Homo sapiens: one gene and its partners. The protein of the gene in region 1 interacts with the protein of each later gene in a pairwise test. Each region holds a gene or a part of one and is shown in the gene's direction. Other genes may lie near its edges.

What was found.
Region 2: the proteins of ERBB4 (region 1) and PTPRH interact in a two-hybrid assay, tested with the Homo sapiens proteins (one study listed by BioGRID and IntAct).
Region 3: the proteins of ERBB4 (region 1) and TROAP interact in binary tests that used the Homo sapiens proteins (3 or more experiments, as listed by UniProt).
Region 4: the proteins of ERBB4 (region 1) and MTMR2 interact in a two-hybrid assay, tested with the Homo sapiens proteins (one study listed by BioGRID and IntAct).

Annotation. Positions count from the first base shown.
Region 1 is NC_000002.12:211,380,803-211,387,827, reverse strand, and holds part of ERBB4 (receptor tyrosine-protein kinase erbB-4 isoform JM-a/CYT-1 precursor), read left to right. Parts: intron 1-677; coding exon 678-975; intron 976-3,767; coding exon 3,768-4,213; 3' UTR 4,214-7,025. UniProt on the Homo sapiens protein: Tyrosine-protein kinase that plays an essential role as cell surface receptor for neuregulins and EGF family members and regulates development of the heart, the central nervous system and the mammary gland, gene transcription, cell proliferation, differentiation, migration and apoptosis.
Region 2 is NC_000019.10:55,199,500-55,206,524, reverse strand, and holds part of PTPRH (receptor-type tyrosine-protein phosphatase H isoform 1 precursor), read left to right. Parts: intron 1-932; coding exon 933-1,199; intron 1,200-2,476; coding exon 2,477-2,743; intron 2,744-4,202; coding exon 4,203-4,469; intron 4,470-6,022; coding exon 6,023-6,289; intron 6,290-7,025. UniProt on the Homo sapiens protein: Protein phosphatase that may contribute to contact inhibition of cell growth and motility by mediating the dephosphorylation of focal adhesion-associated substrates and thus negatively regulating integrin-promoted signaling processes.
Region 3 is NC_000012.12:49,318,782-49,326,258, forward strand, and holds the start of TROAP (tastin), read left to right. Parts: upstream 1-4,473; 5' UTR 4,474-4,568; intron 4,569-4,822; 5' UTR 4,823-4,827; coding exon 4,828-4,971; intron 4,972-5,063; coding exon 5,064-5,256; intron 5,257-5,365; exon of another isoform or gene 5,366-5,373; coding exon of another isoform or gene 5,374-5,493; exon of another isoform or gene 5,494-5,607; intron 5,608-5,710; exon of another isoform or gene 5,711-5,795; intron 5,796-6,719; coding exon 6,720-6,877; intron 6,878-6,965; coding exon 6,966-7,103; intron 7,104-7,294; coding exon 7,295-7,377; intron 7,378-7,477. UniProt on the Homo sapiens protein: Could be involved with bystin and trophinin in a cell adhesion molecule complex that mediates an initial attachment of the blastocyst to uterine epithelial cells at the time of the embryo implantation.
Region 4 is NC_000011.10:95,914,108-95,921,132, reverse strand, and holds part of MTMR2 (phosphatidylinositol-3,5-bisphosphate 3-phosphatase MTMR2), read left to right. Parts: intron 1-3,646; exon of another isoform or gene 3,647-3,756; intron 3,757-5,169; exon of another isoform or gene 5,170-5,318; intron 5,319-6,820; exon of another isoform or gene 6,821-6,891; intron 6,892-7,025. UniProt on the Homo sapiens protein: Lipid phosphatase that specifically dephosphorylates the D-3 position of phosphatidylinositol 3-phosphate and phosphatidylinositol 3,5-bisphosphate, generating phosphatidylinositol and phosphatidylinositol 5-phosphate.

The DNA of each region.
Region 1 (7,025 bases):
TTTGGTGTACATCGTGTAGCTGCCTTTGTAGATGTGTTTTTATCTCAGCTGATAATCCGAAATTGAGATATCATGCATCAACAGTAGCTTTCAATTTTTATCTGAAGGATTTACCTGGGCACATAAATTATGCTTCTGGATGTGGAGGTGATCTTTACTTCCCTGATTATTGGTCATGTACTAAAAAGTCAGAATTATAGTGATGATCCTCTAGTTAGGTACTAGAGCCTCAAATTCATAATAACCACAGAATTTTCGAAGGGAATAAAGACATAGGATTATTCAAAATATATCCATGTACTTCTATTCTTAATGACAACTGTCTATAATTAATGACACTTGCATTTATCATAAAAATTCACTTTGAAATTTGTATTAAATATAGGCACTTGTGGGAAAAGGGCATCAAATACATTTTATTAGAATATGTTTCAGTTGGTTAATAAAACTAGAATGTGTATTTCAAAATTATTTTCTGATGATTTATCTTTTAAGAAAAGTGGAAATTTTAGGTGTTTATAGTTTGTAACTCCATTAGCCACTAGGGGAAAAAAAACCAGTAAATACTATGACTATTCTCTGAAAGACTGGCTTTGATATCCTTGTGGCTATTAACATTCATTTTTAAACTATTTCTAACAACGCCTTCTCTCCACATATGTTTCTCTTATTAACAGAACCAGTTTGTATACCGAGATGGAGGTTTTGCTGCTGAACAAGGAGTGTCTGTGCCCTACAGAGCCCCAACTAGCACAATTCCAGAAGCTCCTGTGGCACAGGGTGCTACTGCTGAGATTTTTGATGACTCCTGCTGTAATGGCACCCTACGCAAGCCAGTGGCACCCCATGTCCAAGAGGACAGTAGCACCCAGAGGTACAGTGCTGACCCCACCGTGTTTGCCCCAGAACGGAGCCCACGAGGAGAGCTGGATGAGGAAGGTTACATGACTCCTATGCGAGACAAACCCAAACAAGGTATGAACTGATTATTCAGAAACGATCGCCATTCGAAGTTCACTTCCATCAAGATAAACAAAGTACAGAATAGAAATTGCCAGATAGCTGACCAGCACAACATTTGTGATCCAGTAAAGGCCTAGGCTACTGCTACTTGTAGTATGGTCCCTGAATCAGCAGCATCCACATTATTTATTATTATTTATATAAATCAGAATCTCAGGCAGGCCCCGTCTGAATAGGAATCTGGATTTTAACAAGATCCCCAGGCTATCTGCATACAGCAATCAGTCTTGAGAAGCACTATTCTAAACATATTTTGTTGAAATATTTGAATGAAGTAGCATACTACAAAGTGTCAGGACCATAGCTTTATTGGACTTAATTGCGGAGATCAGAAAGACTGGTATTGTTGGCAAAAGTGCCTGATGCTTTTGATGGCACTAATAAAAGATTTGTTTGACTCATTTAAATGATGACATTTAAACAACCTAGTTTATTATAGGAAAATATTATGTTCTTATATGACGTTTTTCAAAAATTAAAGGTTTGACCCTGTATATACTTACAAGCATACCACCAAGATTTGAAAATAATAATCTGTGGTTTTACAAAGCATAACAATAATTTTGTAAAGTTAGTAGTAGAAATGTTAAGCACCCAAATCAAATAATGCTTCAATTTTGCAACAAAACAGCCTTTCTTCTTCTATGCTAACAGTATCACAACAGAGAAGATAGATGATTGTTATTAAAAAATGATGATCATGTCTCTCGCAGTCTTTAGTGTCAACAGTAAACTACATTTTAAGACTCTGAGAAGGGCCTGGTATATGGTTATGTTCTCTCCTTTAAAGTAAAATTTAGAGATCTCTAATTGTAAATAACCTTTTAAAATATATCTGTCTAGATAAAATTTTTACATATCTAAAACTTCTATACATATAAAAATGTAATGAAGAGTTTGGATGCTCATAGTAGCCTAGTAATGACACAAATGTAGACGTTGTGAAGACTTGGCAGATTCACCCCAAAGAAGAATCTTTTCTGGGGAGATTTTCACTCCAACCGTAAAGTTATTGGACAGCTATATAAGTTTGCATGAGGACAATATATAAGTAGATTGCATTGAGGAAAGGTAAGGTGAAGAGAAAAGCAAGTCACCCTATAGAGTCACACTGTATTCTCAGATTTTATCTCTGAACACTAAGCTCCGTTTCTATAAAAGGTTGCTATAGTCTAACCTCGTACTCAGAGAGTACAGAATTTTAGTGTAGACATTCCTATTCTTTCAATTAAGAAGTTTAAGGAATCTGGTAAGAGAGACCAAATTCTGCATTCCTTATAAATGTTTTCATACACTTGTCAAATTAAAACTTGTTACTAAGCATAAAGTTCACCCAACTCCTGCAGGGGCAATAATAAAAAACAGTGCAGTAGAATAAGAAGATTATGCAAGAGGAGTTAGAAGACCTGAATTCTATCCCAACACTAATTGTATCCTGCACACATCATTTAATCTCATTTTTCTGTCTACAAAGCTGGAAAAATAAGTCTTGTACTTCTTTTTCACAGAATTGGGAGGATGAAATGATAGTGTCTTGTAAAGGCCTATATATGATAGTGGGATATTCATTACTGCCCTTTAAGTTGAATAAATGATGCTAAATACTTACCTATTCTGTATATATATATTTGGAGAAAAATAATCCTCACTTAATAGGATTTTTCTCTCTACTTATTGGGCTAAGGATAAAAGACAGAAAGTTTGTTTCAGAATGGCCTCTCAACAAAGAATTGTGCCCTCTTCATGCCTTGAATTCAAAATAGGAATAGCTTAGGGCTTTGTGTATATAGTAAAAGAGAGGACTGTCAGAGGACTTACAATACATGCGTGTTTATGTCTATGTGCAGTCTATATTATAGACATAGATGTGGAATTAAGCTTCAGGAGAATGGTGATAATTATTAGCACCTTTTAGGCCAATACCTATACTAGATGGATTTATTAGATTGATCCGTACAAAATAGGCACTAATTGACTGGTTTCAATATACAAAATTTATTTTATTTTATATAATTCAAGCTGATAGTTTGCTACTTTGTGATTATGATTGGTCAATGGAAATATTATAATTATACTTTACTATTAAGTAGAAGTATATGTAATGTCAAGCAGGTCAACTAGAGGCATGTTAGCTATCTGTTAGATTTGCTTTTTTAGTTGAATTTTTTTCCTTTGATGCTTTCTTTTCCATGTGTAAAACCTTTTTCAGAAGCATCTCCAATTAAATCCTTGTTACCAGTATAGGCAATCATAGCAAACCATAGAGACTAAAAAACATGATTTCTTCACTCCATCTATTCATCTTGGCATGGAACTCAGCTATAGATTCTTGTTTTTTCAATATCCTTTATAGAAGTTAAGTTGTCTGTATATTTAAAGACTATTTAATCCTAATAGGTAGTCTTATTTCCTAATATAAATAACTTTTAGAAAACAAAAACATTGAAACAACCAGCCCCATATGCAGAAGAGACAAATGCAATTAGAAAGAAAGAAAAATTTAGGAGATAGAAATTCTGATTCTGGCCTCGTTGGCTTCTTGTTTTATTATAAACATTTTTGACCCACTTACTCTTTTTTTCATAAGACAATGGTGATCCACAAATACTTGTTGTGAGAAATCATGAAAACAAATCTGTGGGTTTTTTTGTTCTAGACAAAGAAGCTAACCATTATGTATAACCTTGGTCTGATTAATATTTTCCAGAAACTAGAGGTTAGCTGATATTTTTTTATTCCTTTAGAATACCTGAATCCAGTGGAGGAGAACCCTTTTGTTTCTCGGAGAAAAAATGGAGACCTTCAAGCATTGGATAATCCCGAATATCACAATGCATCCAATGGTCCACCCAAGGCCGAGGATGAGTATGTGAATGAGCCACTGTACCTCAACACCTTTGCCAACACCTTGGGAAAAGCTGAGTACCTGAAGAACAACATACTGTCAATGCCAGAGAAGGCCAAGAAAGCGTTTGACAACCCTGACTACTGGAACCACAGCCTGCCACCTCGGAGCACCCTTCAGCACCCAGACTACCTGCAGGAGTACAGCACAAAATATTTTTATAAACAGAATGGGCGGATCCGGCCTATTGTGGCAGAGAATCCTGAATACCTCTCTGAGTTCTCCCTGAAGCCAGGCACTGTGCTGCCGCCTCCACCTTACAGACACCGGAATACTGTGGTGTAAGCTCAGTTGTGGTTTTTTAGGTGGAGAGACACACCTGCTCCAATTTCCCCACCCCCCTCTCTTTCTCTGGTGGTCTTCCTTCTACCCCAAGGCCAGTAGTTTTGACACTTCCCAGTGGAAGATACAGAGATGCAATGATAGTTATGTGCTTACCTAACTTGAACATTAGAGGGAAAGACTGAAAGAGAAAGATAGGAGGAACCACAATGTTTCTTCATTTCTCTGCATGGGTTGGTCAGGAGAATGAAACAGCTAGAGAAGGACCAGAAAATGTAAGGCAATGCTGCCTACTATCAAACTAGCTGTCACTTTTTTTCTTTTTCTTTTTCTTTCTTTGTTTCTTTCTTCCTCTTCTTTTTTTTTTTTTTTTTTAAAGCAGATGGTTGAAACACCCATGCTATCTGTTCCTATCTGCAGGAACTGATGTGTGCATATTTAGCATCCCTGGAAATCATAATAAAGTTTCCATTAGAACAAAAGAATAACATTTTCTATAACATATGATGGTGTCTGAAATTGAGAATCCAGTTTCTTTCCCCAGCAGTTTCTGTCCTAGCAAGTAAGAATGGCCAACTCAACTTTCATAATTTAAAAATCTCCATTAAAGTTATAACTAGTAATTATGTTTTCAACACTTTTTGGTTTTTTTCATTTTGTTTTGCTCTGACCGATTCCTTTATATTTGCTCCCCTATTTTTGGCTTTAATTTCTAATTGCAAAGATGTTTACATCAAAGCTTCTTCACAGAATTTAAGCAAGAAATATTTTAATATAGTGAAATGGCCACTACTTTAAGTATACAATCTTTAAAATAAGAAAGGGAGGCTAATATTTTTCATGCTATCAAATTATCTTCACCCTCATCCTTTACATTTTTCAACATTTTTTTTTCTCCATAAATGACACTACTTGATAGGCCGTTGGTTGTCTGAAGAGTAGAAGGGAAACTAAGAGACAGTTCTCTGTGGTTCAGGAAAACTACTGATACTTTCAGGGGTGGCCCAATGAGGGAATCCATTGAACTGGAAGAAACACACTGGATTGGGTATGTCTACCTGGCAGATACTCAGAAATGTAGTTTGCACTTAAGCTGTAATTTTATTTGTTCTTTTTCTGAACTCCATTTTGGATTTTGAATCAAGCAATATGGAAGCAACCAGCAAATTAACTAATTTAAGTACATTTTTAAAAAAAGAGCTAAGATAAAGACTGTGGAAATGCCAAACCAAGCAAATTAGGAACCTTGCAACGGTATCCAGGGACTATGATGAGAGGCCAGCACATTATCTTCATATGTCACCTTTGCTACGCAAGGAAATTTGTTCAGTTCGTATACTTCGTAAGAAGGAATGCGAGTAAGGATTGGCTTGAATTCCATGGAATTTCTAGTATGAGACTATTTATATGAAGTAGAAGGTAACTCTTTGCACATAAATTGGTATAATAAAAAGAAAAACACAAACATTCAAAGCTTAGGGATAGGTCCTTGGGTCAAAAGTTGTAAATAAATGTGAAACATCTTCTCATGCAATTATTTTATTATCCAACACACTAATCTTTTGATACTTTATATAATTCCCTTTCTTCATATACTGCATCCAGTACTAGAACCATCATTATTATGTATCATTTTGAAAGAATACCTGATGAGATGAAGGATGAGAACAAATGACAGAGATGAGTCTCCAAGTAAAGGGGGCCTCACATCAATAATTAGGAAACTTAGATATAAGTCGCCCTTTTCTGAAAATTCTACCCCAAGTCATTTAGATTTTTAAAAAATATTTCTAATGTTAAAATATTGGGACCAAATTAGAATCAATAGTATAAGATTAATTAATTAGAGTAAAAATATCTATTAAGGCAGAGAAAGTTTAGAGAAAAAAATCCAAAGAAATTTGTGTTTCTTCCTATTCTGAACAAGTAAATCCATCCATCCATCCATCCAAACCTCCTTTATCTAACTGTGTCTACTAAAAGCACCATGTTTTGTGGGGAACACTCAGATAAATGGAATATCATCCTCAACTTCAAAATTCTATGATCTAGGAGATTTAATTAAAATGACATTTTAATTTTTCTATGCGTTCCAACAATCAGATTGCATAGTCTCTTTTGTGAATAGCTGTCATATAATCAGTTGTACTGTAAGATATCTCCTTTAAACTCATTTGGGATATAAGTTAAACATCCTTCAAATTGTTGATGTTGACAAACAGGATAATTTCAATAATATTATTCAAACATAAACTGGTCTAGGAGAATATTGCATCACTGACTAATTAGCCTATCTAGAGTCTAACTTCACCATTAAACCAAAAGCAGATGGTGGTCCTTGGCCAAGAATATTGGAGACATTGGAGTTGGTTTTTTTCTAAGCTATAAGAAGTGAGGCGAGCTGAAAAAGTATGGTAGAGCAGGAGAAGGGTTTGTGAGATTCCTTCTAGTGAAGTTCACCCTCAAACTTTTCAGGGGTAAAGACACAGAGTGATTCAGGGGCCACAATCTAATAGCTCAGGGCTCTCCTATCCATTCAGAGAAGTCTCTAGGAAAAGGGATCTCATATCAGTACTTATGAAAAATTGAATATAAGCCTCCCTTTCTAAATAAATCTGCATCGAGTCATCACAGCCCTCTTTTTGGATACTATACCTTGATTTTTTTTTTCTGATTTACAATATGCATATGGTTTCTACTGGGCTATAGAAAGCAGAATCACTCATTTTGGAGAAGGAAAAAATGAATAGTTAAAACAAACTTTTAACTGTTAAGGTAACAGAAATGTATTTAGTGAATGTCTCTTTCCTCCTAA
Region 2 (7,025 bases), on another chromosome or scaffold:
AGAAACTGGTCAGCCTGTCTCTACAAAAAAATTAAAAAGTAGCTGTGGTGGCGTGTTCCCGTGGTCCCATCTACTCGGGAGGCTGAGGTGAGAGGATCGCTTGAGCCCGGGAGGCAGAGGTTGCAGTGAGCTCTGATTGGACCGCTGCACTCCAGCCTGGGCAACAGAGAGAAACCCTGTCTCAAAAAAAAAAAAAGAAAAGAAAACAAAAGAAAACAAAAGAAAAGAAAAACAAACTAAATTACTATGAGAGATTTTATGTAGTCCATCAGATACAATTTTTTTTTTTTTTGAGGCAGAGTCTTGCTCTGTCGCCCAGGTTGGAGTGCAGTGGCATGATCTTGGTTCACTGCAACCTTTGCCTCCTGGGTTCAAGTGATTCTCCTGCCTCAGCCTCCCGAGTAGCAGAGACTACAGGCATGTGCCACCATGCCCAACTAACTTTTGTATTTTTAGTAGAGACTGGGTTTCGCCATGTTGGCCAGGCTGGTCTCGAACTCCTGACCTCAGGTGATCCGCCTGCCTCGGCCTCCCAAAGTGCGGGGATTACAGGTGTGAGCCACTGCACCTGGCAGATACAAGGTATTTTCATTTTGACTTGTAATCAATATAAAAACGATCATTCAATATATACACCAAGTATATACTCACACACACACAAATATATATAAAGGATCAATGAGACAGTTGACATTCTTAATTTCATACGAACTCTTCGAAAGCCGGTGTGGATCTTCCACTAACGGCTCATCTCATTTCACAAAAGCCACCTCACGGTGCTCAACACTCACGTGGAACTCGTGGCTGCCACACTGGACAGTGCAGAGCTGGGCCTCCCTGCCTCTACCTGCTGGATGCAACGGTTAAGGAAGGGCTGGAAAGTTTGAGGGCCAGAAACTACAACTGATTTTCCCTCCTGTGCTGGTTTTCAGCTCCCAACCCAGTGAGGAACCTGAGAGTGGAGGCTCAGACCAACAGCTCCATCGCCCTGACCTGGGAGGTCCCCGACGGCCCAGACCCACAGAACTCCACCTACGGGGTTGAGTACACTGGAGATGGTGGCAGAGCAGGGACTCGAAGCACAGCACACACTAACATCACCGTGGATGGACTTGAACCCGGGTGTTTGTATGCGTTTTCCATGTGGGTGGGAAAGAATGGAATCAACAGCTCCCGGGAGACTCGAAATGCCACCACAGGTGAGAGGCAGTCGCCATTTGTTTTGCTCTTACTTGTTTAAGGGGCAGTAGGCAGGAGAACGTAGCGGATTTCTATTCCATAGTCCCTCTGGGCCACATTGAGCCAGGTACTCATGTCCACATCCTGGGGCAGTCTCAGCTCAGGAGATGAAGAAGGAATGAATGTCCATGGTACCTCCAGCTGCTAAGCTGGGGCCGGTCTGTGTCTAGGACTCTCTAGAATGTACCTTCCTGCACCAAGAGGAATGTGTAGGGGCCAAGGCATGTTACCTGAGCTTTCAAGGAATTAGATACTGTGAGTGGGGACACTCTGACCCTCTGACTCTTCTTCTAGTCCCCAGCTGCGTCACATATTGAGGATGGAAACTCAGATCATCAGCTCCATGATCCTGATGTGGAGAGCTCCCTCTGGCTAGATCTCCATTGTCCGATATGGTAGCCACCAGCCACACATGGCTATTAAATTTAAGCTCGTTAAAGTTGCATGAAACTGCAAATTCAGTTTCACATTTCATATGTTTGAAAGCCCTGTTGAAGGGCTTCCATTTCCTTCTCTGTTCTCCTACCATACTGGAAGGTGGGAGAGCATTTCCATCGTTGCAGAAGCTCAGTTGGAAAGCGCTGGCTCAGGTCTTTGTTACTCAAAGTGTGGTCCATGTGTGGGCAGCATCCGGGTCTCTGAGAGCTGATGGAAATACATTGGCAAGTGACACTGGTGGGGGAGAAAAAGGGTGGGGGGGAGTGCAGTCTCTCAGCTCCATCCTAGCCCTGCTGAGTGAGAACCTGCATTTCACAAGGTCCCCTGTGAGATGTGCACACAGCAAAGAATGAGAAGCCCTGGTCTAGACCATAAACTCTGCATCTACTGGCACCAGCTGTTGAGGGACAACTAGGAACTCTGATGATCAAAAATGCCCACTTGGCCAGGCATGTTGCCTCACGCCTGTAGTCCCAGCACTTTGGGAGGCCGAGGTGGGAGGATCACCTGAGGTCAGGAGTTCGAGACCAGCCTGGCCAGCATGGTGAAAAAATATAAAAATAAGCCGGGTGTGGTGGTGCAGACCTGTAGTCCCACCTACTCGGGAGGCTGAGGCAGGAGAATCGCTTGAACCCGGACGGCGGAGGCTGTGGTGAGCCGAGATCGTGCCACTGCACTCCAGCCTGGATGACAGACAGAGACTCTGTCTCGAAAAAACAAACAAACAAAAAGCTCACTGGCTGCCCCCGTTATGTTCTGTAGTCCTGCTCATATTAGATCTTTCTTCCTAATTTCTCAGCTCACAACCCAGTGAGGAACCTGAGAGTGGAGGCTCAGACCACCAGCTCCATCTCCCTGAGCTGGGAGGTCCCCGATGGCACAGACCCACAGAACTCGACCTACTGCGTTCAGTGCACTGGAGATGGTGGCAGAACAGAGACTCGAAACACAACAGACACCAGAGTCACCGTGGATGGCCTTGGACCCGGGTCATTGTATACGTGTTCTGTGTGGGTGGAGAAAGACGGAGTAAATAGCTCTGTGGAGATTGTCACTAGTGCCACAGGTAAGAGGCAGCCGCTGTTTTATTTTTATTTCTTTTATAAGGACAGTGGTAGGGGGTGGTTGGGAGCTGACAAAATGTGACAGGTTCTTTAGTCCAATAGAAACACAGTGGAAGCCACAGGTGAGAATTTCAATTTTCTATCAGCCACATAAAAATAAGTACAAAGAAACTGGTCAGCCTGTCTCTACAAAAAAAATAAAAAAGTAGCTGTGGTGGCGTGTTCCCGTGGTCCCACCTACTCGGGAGGCTGAGGTGAGAGGATCGCTTGAGCCCGGGAGGCAGAGGTTGCAGTGAGCTCTGATTGGACTGCTGCACTCCAGCCTGGGCAACAGAGAGAAACCCTGTCTCAAAAAAGAAAGAAGGAAGGAAGGAAGGAAGGAAGGAAAGAAAGAAACTAAATTACTATGAGATATTTTATGTAGCCCATCAGATACAATTTTTTTTTTTTTTTTTTTGAGACAGAGTCTCCCTCTGTCGCCCAGGCTGGAGTGCAGTGGCGCAATCTTGGCTCACTGCAAGCTCTGCCTCCCGGGTTCAGGCCATCCTCCTGCCTCAGCCTCCCGAGTAGCTGGGACTACAGGCGCACACCGCCACACCTGGCTAATTTTTTGTATTTTTAGTAGAGACGGGTTTCACCGTGTTAGCCAGGATGGTCTCGATCTCCTGACCTTGTGATCCACCCGCCTTGGCCTCCCAAAGTGCTGGGATTACAGGCGTGAGCCACCGTGCCCAGCCCTTTTTTTTTTTTGGGACAGAGTCTCTGTCTCCCAGGCTGAAATGTAGTGGCATGATCTTGACTCACTGCAACCTCCACCTCCTGGGTTCAAGTATTCTCCTGCCTCAGCCTCCTGAGTAGCTGGGACTACAGGCATATGCCACCATACCTGGCTAACTTTTGTATTTTTAGTAGAGACGGGGTTTCGCCATGTTGGCCAGGCTGGTCTTGAGCTCCTGACCTCAGGTGATCCGCCTACCTCAGCCTCCCAAAGTGCTGGGATTACAGGTGTGAGCCACTGCGCCTGGCAGATACAAAATATTATCATTTTGACATGTAATCAATATAAGGAAAGGATCATTAAATATACACACTGAGTATATACCCACAAAATATATATATATATGTGTATGTATATATATGTGTGTGTATATATATGTGTATGTGTATATATATGTGTGTGTGTGTGTGTGTATAGGATCAATCAGATAGTTGACATTCTTAATTCTTAATTTCATACGAACTCTTCGAAAGCCGGTGTGGATCTTACACTAACGGCTCATCTCATTTCACAAAAGCCACCTCACGGTGCTCAACACTCACGTGGAACTCGTGGCTGCCACACTGGACAGTGCAGAACTGGGCCTCCCTGCCTCCACCTGCTGGATGCAATGGTTAAGGAAGGGCTGGAAAGTTTGAGGGCCAGAAACTACAACTGATTTTCCCTCCTGTGCTGGTTTTCAGCTCCCAACCCAGTGAGAAACCTGACAGTGGAGGCTCAGACCAACAGCTCCATCGCCCTGACCTGGGAGGTCCCCGATGGCCCAGACCCACAGAACTCCACCTACGGGGTTGAGTACACTGGAGATGGTGGCAGAGCAGGGACTCGAAGCACAGCACACACCAACATCACCGTGGATAGACTTGAACCCGGGTGTTTGTATGTGTTTTCCGTGTGGGTGGGGAAGAATGGAATCAACAGCTCCCGGGAGACTCGAAATGCCACCACAGGTGAGAGGCAGTCGCCATTTGTTTGATCTCTTATTTGTTTAAGGGACAGTAAGCAGTAGAATGTAGACGATTGTCTATTCCATAGTCCCTCTGGGCCATATTGAGCCAGGTACTCATGTCCACATCCTGGGGCAGTCTCAGCTCAGGAGATGAAGAAGGAATGAATGTCCATGGTACCTCCAGCTGCTAAGTTGGGGCCAGTCTGTGTCTAGGACTCTCTAGAATGTGGACCATAATGCCAAGGGGCACCTTCCTGCACCAAGAGGAATGTGTAGGGGCCAAGGCATGTTACCTGAGCTTTCAAGGAATTAGATACTGTGAGTGGGGACACTCTGACCCTCTGACTCTTCTTCTAGTTCCCAACTGTGTCACATATTGAGGATGGAAACTCAGATCATCAGCTCCATGACCCTGATGTGGACAGCTCCCTGTGTCTACACCTCCATTGTCCAATATGGTAGCCACTAGCCACACGTGGCTATTAAATTTAAACTCATTAAAGTTGCATGAAACTGCAAATTCAGTTTCACATTTCATGTGCTCAAAAGGCCTGTTGAGGGGCTCCCAGTCCCCCCTTCATCCTCCACGGTGCTAATGCCTACCATATTGGAAAGTGAGAGACTGTCTTCATCACCACACAAAGCTCCCTTGAGTCTCTCTTATTTTTTTCTTTTTTTTAGAGCTGGAGTCTCGCTTTGTCATCCAGGCTGGAGTGCAGTGGCAGGATCGTAGCTCGCTGCAGCCTCAAATTCCTGGGCTGAAGCAATCCGCCGACCTCAGCCTCCCAAGTAGCAGGGACTACAGGCGTGGGCCACCATGCCTGACTAATTTATTTTTTTTAGAGATGAGGTCTTGCTGTGTGGTCCAGGCTGGTCTCTAACTCCTGGCCTCAAGCAATCTCCCTACCTCAGCCCCACAAATTGCTGAGATTACAGGCATGTAATCTCACATGAAATGTGAAACTGTGCTGGGCCATTGGGCCTCTCTTAGGCAGTAACCCCAGGCATAAAGGCTTCACCTTTATGACCTAATCTTGCAAGGGCCCTACCTCTTAATGCTATTCCATTGGAGATTTTTATTTTGTTTTTTTTGTTTGTTTTTTTTGTTTGTTTTGAGACGGAGTCTCGCTGTGTCGCCCAGGCTGGAGTGCAGTGGCGCGATCTCGGCTCACTGCAAGCTCCGCCTCCCGGGTTCACGCCATTCTCCTGCCTCAGCCTCCCGAGTAGCTGGGACTACAGGCACCAGCCACCACGCCCGGCTAATTTTTTGTATTTTTAGTAGAGACAGGTTTCACCGTGTTAGCCAGGATGGTCTCAATCTCCTGACCTCAGGTGATCCCCTTGCCTCAGCCTCCCGAAGTGCTGGGATTACAGGCGTGAGCCACCACGCCCGGCACATTAGTCTGAGAAACACGGTCTAGAACATACACCCTGCATCTGCTGGCACCAGCAGTTGAACAAGAGCTAAGATGGTTGAGGGCAGTGAGGGGCCCACTCCTGCCCCGTTCTGTTCTGTATCTCCGACAACATAGGATCTTCTTCCTACTTTCTCAGCCCCCAACCCAGTGAGAAACCTCCATATGGAGACTCAGACCAACAGCTCCATCGCCCTATGCTGGGAAGTCCCCGATGGCCCATACCCTCAGGACTACACCTACTGGGTAGAGTACACTGGAGACGGTGGTGGCACAGAGACCCGAAACACAACAAATACCAGTGTGACAGCTGAGAGACTTGAGCCCGGAACCTTGTACACATTCTCTGTATGGGCAGAAAAAAATGGAGCACGTGGCTCCAGGCAGAATGTCAGCATCTCCACAGGTAGGAACCCTCAACGGCCACTCCCTGTTTTGGTGAGAGGTTAAGAACCAGCAGGAGCGGCGTGGCACCTCTTCTGGGCTCTGGCTCTGTAGTCCGTAGGCTCTGCAGACATCTGCCTCTCCAAGTCCACAGGACAGATGTAATCACAGCTGGGGGCTGGCTCTGCCCTGAGGAAGAAGAGAGCCCATCCAGACTTCTCCCGCTGAGTGTGGGGCTGTGGGGACACAGGCCTTTTCTTTCTTTCTTTCTCCTTCCCTTCCCCTTCCTTCCTTCCCTTTCCTTCCTTTCTTCCTTCCTTTCTCGCTTTCTCTCTTTCCTTTCTTTCTTTCCTTCCTTTCTCTCTTTCTTTCCTTCTCTTTCCTTCCTTTAAAGCCTTCCTTCCTCCCTTCCCTCCTTGTTCCTTCCTTTCTCTCTTTCTCTTTCTTTCCTTCTTTCTTTCTTTTTTTCTGTCTCTCTCTCTTTCTTTCTTTCTCTTTCTCTTTCTTTCCTTCTCTTTCCTTCCCTCCTTCCTTCCTTTCTCCCTCCCCTCCTCCCTCCCTTCCTTTCTCTCTTTCTTTCTCTTTTCTCTTTCTTTCTTTTCCTTCCTTCCTTCTTTCTTTTCTTTCTTTCCTTCTTTTCTTTCTTCTTTCTTGAGACAGAGTTTTCCTTTGTCACTCAGGCTGGAGTGCAATAGCACAATCTCAGCTCACTGCAGCCTCTGCCTCCTGGGCTCAAGCAATTCTCCTGCCTCTGCCTT
Region 3 (7,477 bases), on another chromosome or scaffold:
GAAATGTAATTTTAAATAACTGAGAGTACACTTAATATACCTATTAGAATTGCAAATATTAGAGAGTTGTATAATATTACGTGTTGGAAAGGGTATGAGGTAATAAGAACTTTCAGTAATGATGTTGAGACTGTAAACAGCTACAGACCTGGGTTTTCTTGCTTGGTTTTGTTTTTCAGGGTTTTTTTTAGAGTGTCTCACTGTTATCAAAGCTGGCTTCAAACTCCTGAGCTCAGGCAATCCTCCTACCTCAGCCTTCTAAGAAGCTGGGACTACAAGTGTGTGCCATGCCCGGTTTACAGCTACAGATTTTCTGAAAAATAATCTGGTGCTACTTAGTAAAATTGAGCATGCATATACCTTACCACAGAAATTCCACTCCGAGGAATATGTTCCAGAGAAATTCTTGAACTGGTTCACAGGGGACTATGAAAGAGATAACTGTCTGGCATTGTGTGTAGAAGTCAGGAATGGGTAAGTAAAGTATAATGGATGCCTACCATGGAATCCTATGTAGCAGGTATAAGCAATGAATTAGATTATATGTAGTAATAAGGATGAATCCTGAAAACAGAGTTAATCAAAAAAAGTAAAAGCAGGCTGGCACAGTGGCTGACATCTGTAATCTCAGCACTGTGGGAAGCTGAGGCAGGAGGATGGCTTGAGCCCAGGAGTTTGAGACCAGCCTAGGCAACATAGCAAGACCCCATCTCTATACAAAAAAGTGTATATTAAAAATATATATTTTTTTGAGACAAAGTCTCACTCACTCTTTCTCCCAGCCTAGAGTGCAGTGGCATGATCTCTGCTCACTGCAACCCTCCCTTCTGGGTTCAAGTGATTCTCGTGCCTCAGGCTCCTGAGTAGCTGGGATTACAGGCATGCATCACCACGCCCAGCTAATTATATTTTTAGTAGAGACCGGGTTTTGCCATATTGGCCAGGCTGGTCTTAGACTCCTGACCTCAAGTGATCCGCCTGCCTTGGTGTCCCAAAGTGCTGGGATTACAGGCATGAGCCACCACGCCTGACCTTAAAAATTTTTTTAAAGAGGAAGTTCAAACATTATTTCTTCTTGGAGGTCTTCCTTGTTGATGCATTCAATCATATATTCATCTATCTATTGACTCATTCAACAAGGATTGAGCACTTTTACGAAGGATAATGCAAGGTACTAAAGATATGATGGTAGGCCAAAAATAGAGGGTCACCTTCATCATCTCCTTGGAGGTCTATTGGAGGAAACTGGGTTTAGTAAACATATTATGTTCACACTGATTAATATATAATTACCAACTAACATACATGCTCTGAGGAAACAAACATTACTTTTTGCGAGCACATAGCCAAGAGGTCTTTACTAGATTGGGGTGGGTGGTAGGTAGAGGGGTGCAAGGAAGGCCTGAGGAAATAACAATGGGAATCAATTTGGAGGCATAAATAGGCCAAGTGGAAGTGAAAAGGACATTCCAGAAACAGGGACCATATAGAGCAATCAGGACAAACTTGAGGAATTGAAAGAAGCCATGAAGTTGGAGATATTAATAGAAGGGGAAGAGTGGTAGAAGATGGAGGGTTTCAGTGGGGAGAGGTCAAGGGATAGTGGTAGCCTGACTTGATGTGCATTTTGGAAAGATTACTCTAGCTGCTATATGGAGAATGGAAGAGTGTGAAGAGAAAGAGAGAATAGGGGATGGGAGACCAACTAAGACACTCTTGCAATTGCCTAGGTGAGACTGAGGTGGATTAGGGTGGTGCTAACAAAGAACAAGAAAGTAGATGGGCCGGGTGCGGTGGCTCACGCCTGTAATCCCAACACTTTCGGAGGCCGAGGCAAGTGGATCACTTGAGGTCAGGAGTTCGAGACCATCCTGACCAGCATTGTGAAACCCCGTCTCTACTAAAATACAAAAATTAGCTGGGCATGGTGGCTGGTGCCTGTAATCCCAGCTACTAAGGAGGCTGAGGCAGGAGAATCGCTTGAACCCGGGAGGTGGAGGCTGCAGTGAGCTGAGATCAGGCCACTGCACTCCAGCCTGGGGGATAGAGCAAGACTCTGTCTCAAAAAAAAAGAAAGAAAGAAAAAGAGAGAGTGAGAGAGAGAGAGAGAAAGAGAGAGAGAAAAAAAAAGAGAAAGAAAGAAAAAGAGAGAAAGAAAAAAGAAAGAAAGAAAGAAAAAGAAAAAAGAAAGAAAGAGAAAGTAAGAAATTTTTTTTCTTTTTTGAGACAGAGTTTCACTCTTGTCACCCAGGCTGGAGAATGCAGTGGCACAATCTTGGCTCACTGCAGCCTCTGCCTCCTGGGTTCAAGTGATTTTCCTGCCTCAACCTCCCAAGTAGCTGGGATTACAGGCATCAGCCACCATGCCCAGCTAATTTTTGTATTTTCAGTAGAGACGGGGTTTCACAATGTTGGTCAGGATGGTCTCAAACTCTTGACCTCAGGTGATCCGCCCACCTCGGCCTCCCAAAGTGCTGGGATTACAGTCATAAACCCAGCCGAAAGTAGATGATCTTTTTGTTGTTGTTTGTTTGGTTTTTTTTTGAGACGGAGTTTCGCTCTTGTTGCCCAGGTTGGAGTTGCAGTGGTGCGATCTCGGCTCACCTCAACCTCCGCCTCCTGGGTTCAAGCGATTCTCCTGCCTCAGCCTCCTGAGTAGCTGGGATTACAGGCATGAGCCACCAAGTCCGGCTAATTTTTGTGTTTTTAGTAGAGACGGTTTTCTCCATGTTGGTCAGCCTGGTCTTGAACTCCCAACCTCAGGTGATCCCCCTGCCTTGGCCTCCCAGAGTGCTGGGATTACAGGCGTGAGCCACCGCGCACAGCCTGAAAGTAGATGAATTTTAAAGATGCATACAATTAGTAAAGATACCTTACGTATCTTTAAATTTTTTTTTATAGAAACAGGATCTTGCTACACTGTCTAGGCTGGTCTGGAACTCCTGGCCTCAAGCGATCCACCTGGGCCATCCAAAGTGCTGGGAAAGACGCCTGTAACCCCAGGCTAGACAACGTAGCCAGATCTTGTCTCTACAAAAAAACACAAAAATTAGCTGGTGGCAGGCACCTGTAGTCCCAGCTACTTGAGAGGCTGAGGTTCCCACCTCAGGAGGCCGAGGCTGCGGTGAGCTGAGATCGCACCACTGCACTCCAGCCTGGGCGACAGAGTGAGACCCTGTCCCAAAAATGCATAAATAGTAAAACTAGTGAGAGTGAATGAGAGATGGGATATGTAAAGGGAGTGGGAGGAGTTAAGGAGTAACTCCTCGGTTTCTGGCTTGTGTAAGAATAACTTCTGTGATTGGTGGGGAAAATCCACCAGAGTTCTGTTAAGTGTTGTTCATTTCCTGTCCCCCGTTAGGGGTTACCCCTTCCATCTTAAGCAGGATATTCTAGGATCTCTCAGTCTCACAGCCTTGCCCACCAATAACCAGCAGGTGAGCCCCCTCTCCCCAGACCTCTAGATCTGCAAAAGGCAACCTGGAGGCAAGGAAATCCCCAGCTGTGAGTAGCCATTCAATTCTGGTGCTGTGGTAACTGAGTTCAAAAACAATGAGTCTTGTTACCTACCCGTAAAATGAAAGACACCTCATCAGACACCTCACTGGATTGTGAGGCTCCAAGGAGCACACATATTGTTAGGCTCAGTTCGATTCCCTCCAGCCCTCTCCGCCCGTTTGAAGGCAGTTCCTTATCCCGGAGACAACGTACAGATGTTCTCTCTTTCCCTCTTTATTTTTTTTAAGACAGGGTCTCTGTTGCCCAGGCTGGAGTGCAGTGGCGCGACCACAGCTCACTACAGCCTCAACCTCCTGGGCTCAACACGATCCTCCTGCCTCAGCCTCCAGAGCGGCTGGGACTACAAGCGCGCACCACTGCACAGGGATTATTATTATTATTTTATTATTTTGTAGAGAAACGGGTGGGAGTGGTCTCGCTATGTTGCCCAGGCTGGTCTCAAACTCAGCTCAAGAGATCCTCCCGCCTCGGCGTCCCAAAGTGTTGGGATTACAGGCGCCTGCCACCGCGCCCGGACGCAGATATTTTCTATGGGCATCTGGAATGGCGTCCCCAAAGCTTGGCGCCGTGCTATGGTCAAGCCGGGTCGGGGGCTCGGGCCAGCCTTCAACACCGTTGGCAGCAATCGGAACGATCAACTGTACCCTCAGTACCGCGACCTCGCCCGGTCCTGCCAATGGCCGGCCCCTAGCCGGTCCTGAGGCCTCGCGAGAGCTCCCGTGGCTACGCCTTCCCCGGCCTCGGAACGGCCCCATCCTTCCTCTTTCCCCGCCTCCCAGCGGCGCTCCACTCTCGGATTGGCTGATTGATCCGAGTCAGTTTTTTTCCTCGCCAGAAAGCGGTTCGACAATTGGTCCTTCTTTTGGCCCCTCCTGCGATGCCCGCGGATTGGACGGCTGAGTCTGGCTACGCGGGCCTCCGCGGGAGCGCGACCGGGCCAATCAAGAGCTTGGCGTATTTTACAAACTGAGAAAGTAGCTCCAGCAGCACCCGAGAGGGTCAGGAGAAAAGCGGAGGAAGCTGGGTAGGCCCTGAGGGGCCTCGGTAAGGTAAGGCACGGGGGTCTTGAAGGGAACGAAGGCTGCTGGGTTCATAGGGAGGAGGGCAGTTTGGGGCCCGAGGGCGAAAGAGTAGGCTCGGGGTGTCTGGAGATAGCACCCATAAGAGCGGTCTTGCAGGCGCCGGGGGCTTGTGGGCGCGTGGATTAGGGCGGAGGTATCAGGGATGGCAGGACAGGTGCCCCGAGAACTGGTTGATCTTTGATCTTAGATTCTGCCTGCCTTCTTCCCCGTCTCAATTGTAGCCATCATGACCACCCGGCAAGCCACGAAGGATCCCCTCCTCCGGGGTGTATCTCCTACCCCTAGCAAGATTCCGGTACGCTCTCAGAAACGCACGCCTTTCCCCACTGTTACATCGTGCGCCGTGGACCAGGAGAACCAAGATCCAAGGGTAAGAGGGGCCTAATGGGGGAAGACAGTAGTCACACCAGTAATGCACCCCAACACTAAACCTCACCTTTTTGTCCCCGCTCCCTCCCCTAGAGATGGGTGCAGAAACCACCGCTCAATATTCAACGCCCCCTCGTTGATTCAGCAGGCCCCAGGCCGAAAGCCAGGCACCAGGCAGAGACATCACAAAGATTGGTGGGGATCAGTCAGCCTCGGAACCCCTTGGAAGAGCTCAGGCCTAGCCCTAGGGGTCAAAATGTGGGGCCTGGGCCCCCTGCCCAGACAGGTACCTGTTGGAGCCATGGTAACACGGCCTCCATGGCTGAGTAGGGGACTAGGAAGGGTAAAAGTGGGGTTTTGGGGTTTTGCACTCACTCCTGCTGTCTCCTACTTACTGTGATAGTCCTGGTCCCAGCTCCTGGAAAGCTCTTTGCTCTTAGAAGATCTCCCTTTCCTCCAGCAAAATGTCATCTCGCCAGGTGCCATGGCTTGTACCTGTAATCACAGCTACTCAGGAGGCTGAAGCAGGAGGATCACTGGAGGCCAGGAGTTGGAGACCAGCCTGGATGACAGAGGGAGATCCCATCTCTTTAAAAAATAAATAAATAAATAAATAATAAATATCACTTCTTCTGAAGCCTTTTCCAGTTCCCCATGTCACAATCAGTTGCTCTGTGTTCTCCTAATACTTTGCAGCACTTCTTTTATAACATGTATATACCTTGGCTTGAGTCTGTTACCTGTCTATAGTTTGATGATAGCCTCTTGAGGATAGGGGCTTTGTCTTATTCTTATGGGACCCCAGTGCTTAGAATAGTGTCTTATGTAACATTCTATGAACATTTGGTGACCAGGTGTGGTGGCTCACGCCTGTAATTCCAACACTCCTCCGAGGCAGGAGGATCATTTGAGCTCAGGAGTTTGAGACCAGCCTAGGCAACATAGTGAGACCCCATCTCTTTTTCTCTTTTTTTTTTTCTTTTCTTTTTTTTTTGTGGAGACAGAGTCTTACTCTATCCCTCAGGCTAGAGTACAGTGGCATGATCTCGGCTCACTGCAACATCCACCTCCCAGGTTCAAGCGATTCTCATGCCTCACCCCGAGTACCTGGGATTACCAGCACCTGCCACCACACCCAGCTAATTTTTGTTTTCTTTCTTTTTTTTTTTTTTTTTTTTGAGACAGAGTCTCACTCTGTCACTAAGCTGGAGTGCAGTGGCACGATCTTGGCTCATTGCAACCTCCACCTCCCAGGTTCAAGTGATTCTCCAGCCTCAGCCTCCTGAGTAGCTGGTACTACAGGCGCGCGCCACCAGGTCCAGCTAATTTTTTTTTGTTTTTGTTTTTTGTAGAGATGGGGTTTTACCATGTTGGCCAGGCTGGTCTCAAACTCCTGACCTCAGGTGATCCACCTGCCTCAGCCTCCCAAAGTGCTGGGATTACAGGAGTGAGCTACCGCACCCAGCCAATTTTTGTATTTTTTTAGTGGAGACAGGGTTTTGCTATGTTGGCCGGGTTGGTCTCAAACTCCTGACCACAGGTGATCCACCCGCCTCGGCCTCCCAAAGTGCTGGGATTACAGGCATGAGCCACTGCACCCAGCCATCTATTTCTTAAAAAAAAAAAAAAAAATAAGCCAAATTCAATTGAATGAGTCTCTTGCTCACCTTGTACCTCAAAGTTCCTATGCTAGGGGCCCTATCCCCCTCAGCCTTCCCCCTTCCTTTTCCTTCTCCTCTTTCCTTGCAGAGGCTCCAGGGACCATAGAGTTTGTGGCTGACCCTGCAGCCCTGGCCACCATCCTGTCAGGTGAGGGTGTGAAGAGCTGTCACCTGGGGCGCCAGCCTAGTCTGGCTAAAAGAGTACTGGTTCGAGGAAGTCAGGGAGGCACCACCCAGAGGGTCCAGGTAATGAAACAGGATGTGAGGAGACCAGGCTAGGGGGCACTGAGGGGGGCATCCTGAGCAGTGCTGACAGCCTCTGTTGGTGTCCCAGGGTGTTCGGGCCTCTGCATATTTGGCCCCCAGAACCCCCACCCACCGACTGGACCCTGCCAGGGCTTCCTGCTTCTCTAGGCTGGAGGGACCAGGACCTCGAGGCCGGACATTGTGCCCCCAGAGGCTACAGGCTCTGGTGAGTGCCCTTGAGGGGCTGATAGTCGGTGCTTCTGGGAGCTCCTTCCAGGGACAAAGCTGGGCTCTGGGAGAAGAGGTACCTCATGATGAGGCAAGGGATCCTACTGGGGGAGATGGGGTTGGTGGTGAGGCCTGAGGGTTTGGGGTCCACCTCTGATTCCGTTTTCATCTCTTGCTCCTGTGGATCAGATTTCACCTTCAGGACCTTCCTTTCACCCTTCCACTCGCCCCAGTTTCCAGGAGCTAAGAAGGGAGACAGCTGGCAGCAGCCGGTGAGAAAGGAGAGGGTGTGGGAGAAGGTCATCTGGAAAAGAATGAACCAGTGTCTGATACAGGAGTCCCCCAGAGTTGGGGCCTTCCAGGAGCTTTAGG
Region 4 (7,025 bases), on another chromosome or scaffold:
ACTGCGTCTTTCTCTTTAGCTTAGTAAAACTTTAGTCAAATTTATATCTGAAGGTGGTAATATACTCATCTCTAATTTCTTTAAGTACTTTTATTATTACATGAACTCAAGTTAAATATTATGTGTTATGTTTAAATGTATTGATTAGATGTCTGAAGCCCTTTTGGGAAGTAGGAAGGATGATACACTAATCCATGTGGTTGCCCATTGTTTTTTGAAAATGACATACTTGGCCGAGTGCCATGGCTCATGCCTGTAATCTCAGCACTTGGGAGGCCAAGGTGGGAGGATCACTTGAGCCTAGGGGTTTGAGACCAGCCTGGGCAACATAGTGAGGCCCCATCTCTAAAAAAGAAAGACTTTTTAAAATAAGTAAAAATATTTTAAAAAATGAAAATGACATACTCCATTGAAGTTGGATTACAGGCTGTTGTGCAATCTGTAGTTCACAATAAACATGTGATGAGTCTTACTAAGTATCTGTAGTCATTTCAGAGTTCTCTTGTCTCCAGTTATGCCTTCTAGGTCATCATAGATCTGATGCTTTTGCCCACAAAAGGGCAATTTCATTCTTCATATGATATCCAGGTAGTAGTTTCCTAACCAGCTATAGTTATGTCATCCTGCATCTTTAAAAAAAAAAAAAAAAAAGTAATCGTCAGCTGGGCGTGGTGGCACGCACCTGTAACCCTAACTACTTGGGAGGCTGAGGTACCAGAATTACTTGAACCTGGGAGGCCAAGGTTGCAGTGAGCCAAGAACGCACCACTGCACTCCAGAGTGGGCAATAGAGTGAGACTCCATCTCAAACAAAAACAAAAAAAACAATAGTTGTCTTTGGTGAGTCCTGCTTAATATTGCCATACTTCAGTAAACTGTTCAGCAACTCTTGTATATCTTGCTGTTGGCCATTCTTCATGTATATCTATCCCCACAGAAAGAGAGAGGGAGTTGTGGAAAACTTCACTTTAGCATCCTAATAATCTAGTTATATTCTGTAATTTTACTTTTGTTGGGTGTGCTCTGATTCTTGATATAAGTATGACTTTATAAGATATAGGTAAAATAATACTGTAGGTCAGATGTGATAATAAGAGTAGGCTTGAGTCTCAGAACTGTAATGAGTTACACAGCAGAATTTGACATTATATTGGTAATAATCTGCCATCTTAGTCTGGTTTTCCATTTTTCAGTTTATACACTATTATAAAATGCACTGCTTTAGTGGGTTTCTTTGATTAGTTTGTATTGTGCATAATCAAATGGTAAGATATCTAGTGCCGAATAGGTGCTGAGTGAACATCTAAATAAAAGAATGTTGACGGAATGTTCACCACTGGTCTTGTTTGTTGTTCCCATTCAAAGGATTAAAAAGGATTCCTTCTGTTGAATTTGGCCTGAACACTTGCAATTTCAGGTCTAAGCTGAAGTTATTTTTATGGGAGACTGGACATCTTGAGCTGATTTTACTGTTCTGTGCCCAGTCCTACACACAATGAGGTTATTATGTCCTCTTCAACTACCTATTTATCCATCTGCTACTCTTGATTACTTTTGCCCCTTTTGCTCTAACTTGTGTTGTTAGTCGTTTTAATTAATGTGTGTTCTTGTCATCCTTCATATAACCTCAGGCTTTAGTTATTCTGGGTACCATACTTGTTTATCCCAGATTATTTGGTTTTATCAATTTGTAGTATATAATTTCATTAGCATTGATGAGCATCTTATATTTACATTTAACTTCCATTAAAAAAATCAAAGGGGGGGTACACATACTCAAAGTAGTTCTCAACTAATTGCATTTATAAATTGCATGCCTGCCTTAAAATTATCATCATTTGAAAACAGGAATTCCTAGATTTCTGTTTCCATGGATTTTGATTATACTTATAGCCTGAAGAAGTAGAGGAGTTTCCTAGATTTCTAAAACACATTTTGTTGCAAGGTCTCATCTTTAGTTTTAGCCTCAAGGTCACTTAAGAGTGACGTGTTGGAGGCCAGGTGCAGTAGCTAACGCCTGTAATCCTAGCAGTTTAGGAGGCTGAACAGTTTGGGATTGCTTGAGTCCAGAAATTCCAGACCAGCCAGGGTCACATGGCAGAACACTGTCTCTGCAAAAAATAAAAAGTTAGCTGGGCATGGTAGTGCATGCCTGTAGTCCCAGATACTTGGGAGGCTGGTGTGAGAGGATCACCTGAGCCTGGGAACGTTGAGGCTGCAGTGGGTTGTGATAGTGCCACTGTATTCTGGCCTGGGCAAGACAGTGAGACCCCGTCTCAAGAAAAAAAAGTGATATGTTGGTAGGAAATATGCTTTTATGTTGTTTTTCTAGTAGTGGTGATGGATTTGTGTACAATCACACATTTTTACCCATTCCCTTTGTCACTCTTGGCATGTCTGCTGAGACAGCTGGCAAGATTAGAGGTAGAAATTATAGCTGTAAAACAGAGTAAAGCTACCAGATTGAACCTACAACCTTGGCATTATTAGTAGTACCTTGTATCAAACATTGAACATATTAGACTAAAAATTACTTATTTGGATTTCATTACTTAAAAACCCTCAAAGATCTAAGTTCTCTTAGATAAGAAACAATATTGGTCTGACATAGTAATTATGTAGCTTTTCAGAAAGCACATATTTGAAGAATGCAAGTTGATAGTGAACCTGAGACTGGGTCCCGTATATATCTGTATTTTTCCTTTTTATGCTATTATCAATAATTTCCTATTAGTGTAGACCAGTAGTTCTCAAAGTTTGGTCTCCAGGCCAGTAGCATCAGTATCTCTTTGGGATTTGTTAAAAATGCAAATTCTTGGGCCCTACCTTGGACCTAACTGAATTAACATTTTAGGGGTGGAGCCCAGCTGTTGGTGTTTTAGCAAGCTTTCCAGGTGATCCCGATGGATGCTGAAGTTTGAGAACCACTGCCTTGGATCTTTTGCTAATTGGTGCCTTTTGTAATGCAATCAACATTAGTTAAAACTAAGTTAAGGTCTATGTTAGAAGTACTGTAAAACTATTACTTGAGAGCATTTTTGTAAAAATGTTGACTAAAGTAGTAAAAGGTAAAAGTCATCTCTTGTCGATTTATTAGATTTGATTTCTAGGAAATTTCCTAAGGCATTTTTCTTTGAGTAACATAAAACAAGAATATGCGTTTTAGGCTTTTTCTTAAAAATAGATTCTTAGTGAGAAAGATTAGTGGAAACAAGCATTTTTAAAAAAAGTACAGTTGACCCTCGAACCACATGGGTGTGAACTGTTCAGATCCACTTTTATGTGGATTTTCTTCTGCTTCTGCCACCCCTGACACAGCAAGACCAACCCCTCCTTTTCCTCCTCAGCATGTGCAACATGATGAGGGTAACAAACTTTATGATGACCCACTTCCACTTAATGGGTAGTAAATGTATTTTCTTTTCTTTGTGATTGTCTTAATAACATTTTTTTTCATTGTTAGAGTTCAGTATATTGGCGTGCAGCCTGAAATATGTTTTGATGGGCTGTTTATGTTATCCGTAAAGCTTCCAGTCAACAGTAGTCTATTAATAGTTAAGTCTGGGGAGTAGTTTGGGGAGTCAAAATTATATGCGGATTTTCAGCTGCGTTGAAGGTCAGCACCCCAACTCCTGTGTTGTTCAAGGGTCAACTGTATTATGAACAAGTAATTCCAGGAGGCCATCACCTGAACCTGTAAAGTTTGGATTATGCCCAGGGGAAGGAGATAACCTGGATACAGATGACCAGAAAGCAGTAAGTTTATTTTGGAAAGCTGCCAAGTTAATGCTATTGTATTCAAAATCATCAGAGCCAAAGATTGCGTGCGATTCAGGATTTGAGTAATGGAAATTCTCCAGATTTTAGTGTGGAATATTTTTCCTTTGTAAGGAAGATGGTTTTGAATATGTAAAGTACTTGCTATCTTTGTGTCTACTGTTTGATTTAGTTAAATCGGTAGATAATAATTAAACACTATTAGAGGTGATAGTCAAGGATAGGGAGTGATTTTAAAAACCTGCTTTCCACAGGAAGTCAAATTAAAAATGGAACTGTATAAAAAGATAAAGTTGGTACTAGATTATTAAAATAAAAAGGACTAGGGAAGATGCCTTCTTGAAAATAATAACTTCAGTTCCCTTTCCTGTAGCTTTATTATGCAAAGCTAATTGTGCCTGTCCCTCCTAATATGTTTCTATATAGGTACCAATGTTGTCATTAATACAAACTGTTAATAAGCAAGCTTCATAATTCTTCCCTTCCCCAAGTACATAGGACCTATGGCCATAATCACTGGTGAATATTTATTCTTTCAAAGACTCTTACTTTGTGTGAATAACTCTTGGGCTCTTTAAATATTTTTAGTCTAGAGTAAATAAGAGCAAATGCTGTGTATTAAATATATTAAAAATTACCTGTAAAATATATTTTAATTAAAAATTTAAACACTGTTATTTGGAAAATTCTTTTTTTTTTTTAAGTTCTACTTTAGGTTTAGCAGCACATAACAAAATACAAACTGACAGTGGCTTAATATAGGAGATGCTAAATTTTTTTCCACATGAAAGCCTGGAGATAGTCAATACAGATCTAATATGGTGGATCTGAAGTATCAAGGACCCAGATTGTCTTACATTCCAGGGTTACCTCATGAACCAAAATTATTGTTGGAACTCCAGCTATTATATCTTCAGGAGGAAGGGAAGAAGAGGAGCATACTCTCTCTCTTTGAAGGATACTTTTTTGGCAGTCACATGTCATTTTTTTTAACTTACATCCAGTTGGCTAAAACATGGATGGTCCCATGGCCATACGTAGGTAAACAAGAGGCTGGGATAGGCAGTCTCATCTGTGAGGCCTTTGTGCTGAGCTAAATTTGGAGGTTCTGTCACTGAGGAATAGGAGAGAATGGGTATTGGAGTCATAGCAGCTTTTCCCCTTGGGTACAGATGAATCATTTAAAAGAAAGACATTTTCCACCTAAAGTCTGCAATATTTCACTTATGCCAGAGACACCCTTAGAGCTGCAAATGCGATGACCAAAATAGAAAACACACTGAAAGAGAGGAGGTAATACATTGCTGCAGACCAAAAAAGAGAATTGTATCTTGGAGCACTCTGAACTCTTGAGTTTAGCTTTCTATTTTTTTGTGTCTTGTCTTGGGTCAGATTTTTATAATCCTAATCTGGAACCATAAAATGAAAGTGGTACATTTAATATTGACAAGATCATTAAGTGATGGGGAAACAGAAATCAAAGGAAGAATGGATTGCCGTGCTATATTGTATTTCACTTGAAGAGCTCAAGGAATTGCACGGTAAAGTAGTAGTGGTAATGAAGTTGATGGCCTACTCTGCTTACTTCCAATTTGACATCCATTTCCAAGCCATGTATCCATGTATTTTATCCTCTTCTAGAATGTTGCATCGGGTTCTACTTAGGTATTTTCTCTCATTTCAGTTGTAAGGATGTGGTTTCCATAAGGGAAATAAATAAAGCTGACCATTTTAATTTATGAATGCTTTTGCCAATATTCAGTTTGTTTTTATATCTTTGACCTAAACATTTTATTAAAAATGCGGAGACATCTGTGTCTTATATATTCTTTTGTCACCTAACTTAAATATTAATATTTTAAGCATATAATTTCAAACATAAGGAGTTTATAATTTGGATGTGAATAGAAGAGCATATGTATATAAGTCTCCTTTGGATTGATAAAACATTTATTCATCAGGCTCTGAGGATTTAATAGACATTAAGTCAGAAACATATCCATTTCTCTTCTCGGCAGAATTGCTTTTACTGATAGCAGCAAATGAGCAGTTGCTGAGGTAGGGAGGAGGCCTTGTCTGGAGGTTATGCATTAGCAAAAGGGAAAATAACTGGCTGATGATGGGCTGGTGATTACAAGCCTTAATATTCTTGAGCGAGCCAAGAAGCCCAGCAAAGTTCAAAAATAAAATTTTGTTCTCTGTTCTCTGTTACCAATATTAGATAACAACATTCTTTTATCATAACCAAAGGCATTGCCTCAAAATAGCAACACTGAAAACAAGCCTTGCTTTCCTAGTGGTAGACAGTTATAGTAATAATAATGTTAATATTAAACACAACAATAATATAAATAGCACAACATTTATTGCATGCTTACTATGCTGGGCATGGTGCTACATTTCTTCTATGCATTTTCTCATATAATCCTCATAACTGTATAAAGTAGAGAGTGTTAATGTTTCCATTTTACAGAGAAGAAAACGGAAGATTAGAGAGGGTACCTTGACATGTGAATTCAAGTCCATTTGACTTCAGGGTCTGTGTGCTCTAAAGAACACACATGCCTGAAGATCTAGTGCCCCAGGTGCAGACCAAAGCTTTGTAGTTAGAGGGCAGTCCCAGGGCAGGTTGATTGGGTGGTAGTGATAAGGACATGAGTTTCCTTGACCTGCTATTTTGCTGGAGAAGGATAAAGATACAGTATACATTCACCAAGTGAGAGTTTGTATTTGGAGAGAATTTTACCTTTGAATTTTGTTTGCCTTCTGACAGAAAATAGGATGTTTTTTTTTCTTTGCCTGAGATTAAGAGGATAGTATCATTTCATTCATTACCTGATGATTAAGAGGGTAGTATCGGTAGTATCATTTCATTCAAAAGAACAGTTTTACATTTTGAAGATCATGTAAAGTATGAAGCAAGTAATTGCCAAAGCCTCCTCCCCACCACTCCCTGCCCTGCAGGCTTTGCACAATGATTTAGAATATTTTAGGGTTCCTTAAATTTCTGAATTCCCCTAAGTTCCTTTGTGTTTATTTACAGTTAATGTGTTAAGAGCCATTGACATTTGAAGATCATCAGAAGTGAAGATAAAACATCTCAAAAATTATAATGTAAGTGAATGGGAAAATGCAGATATAAAAATGGACAAAAGTTAATATTGCCAACAGTATTTCTGGATTATATATTATCCCAAATGAAATTTGCACTTATGAGTAACAAGTAGTTTCAAACTTCAGTTCCATTT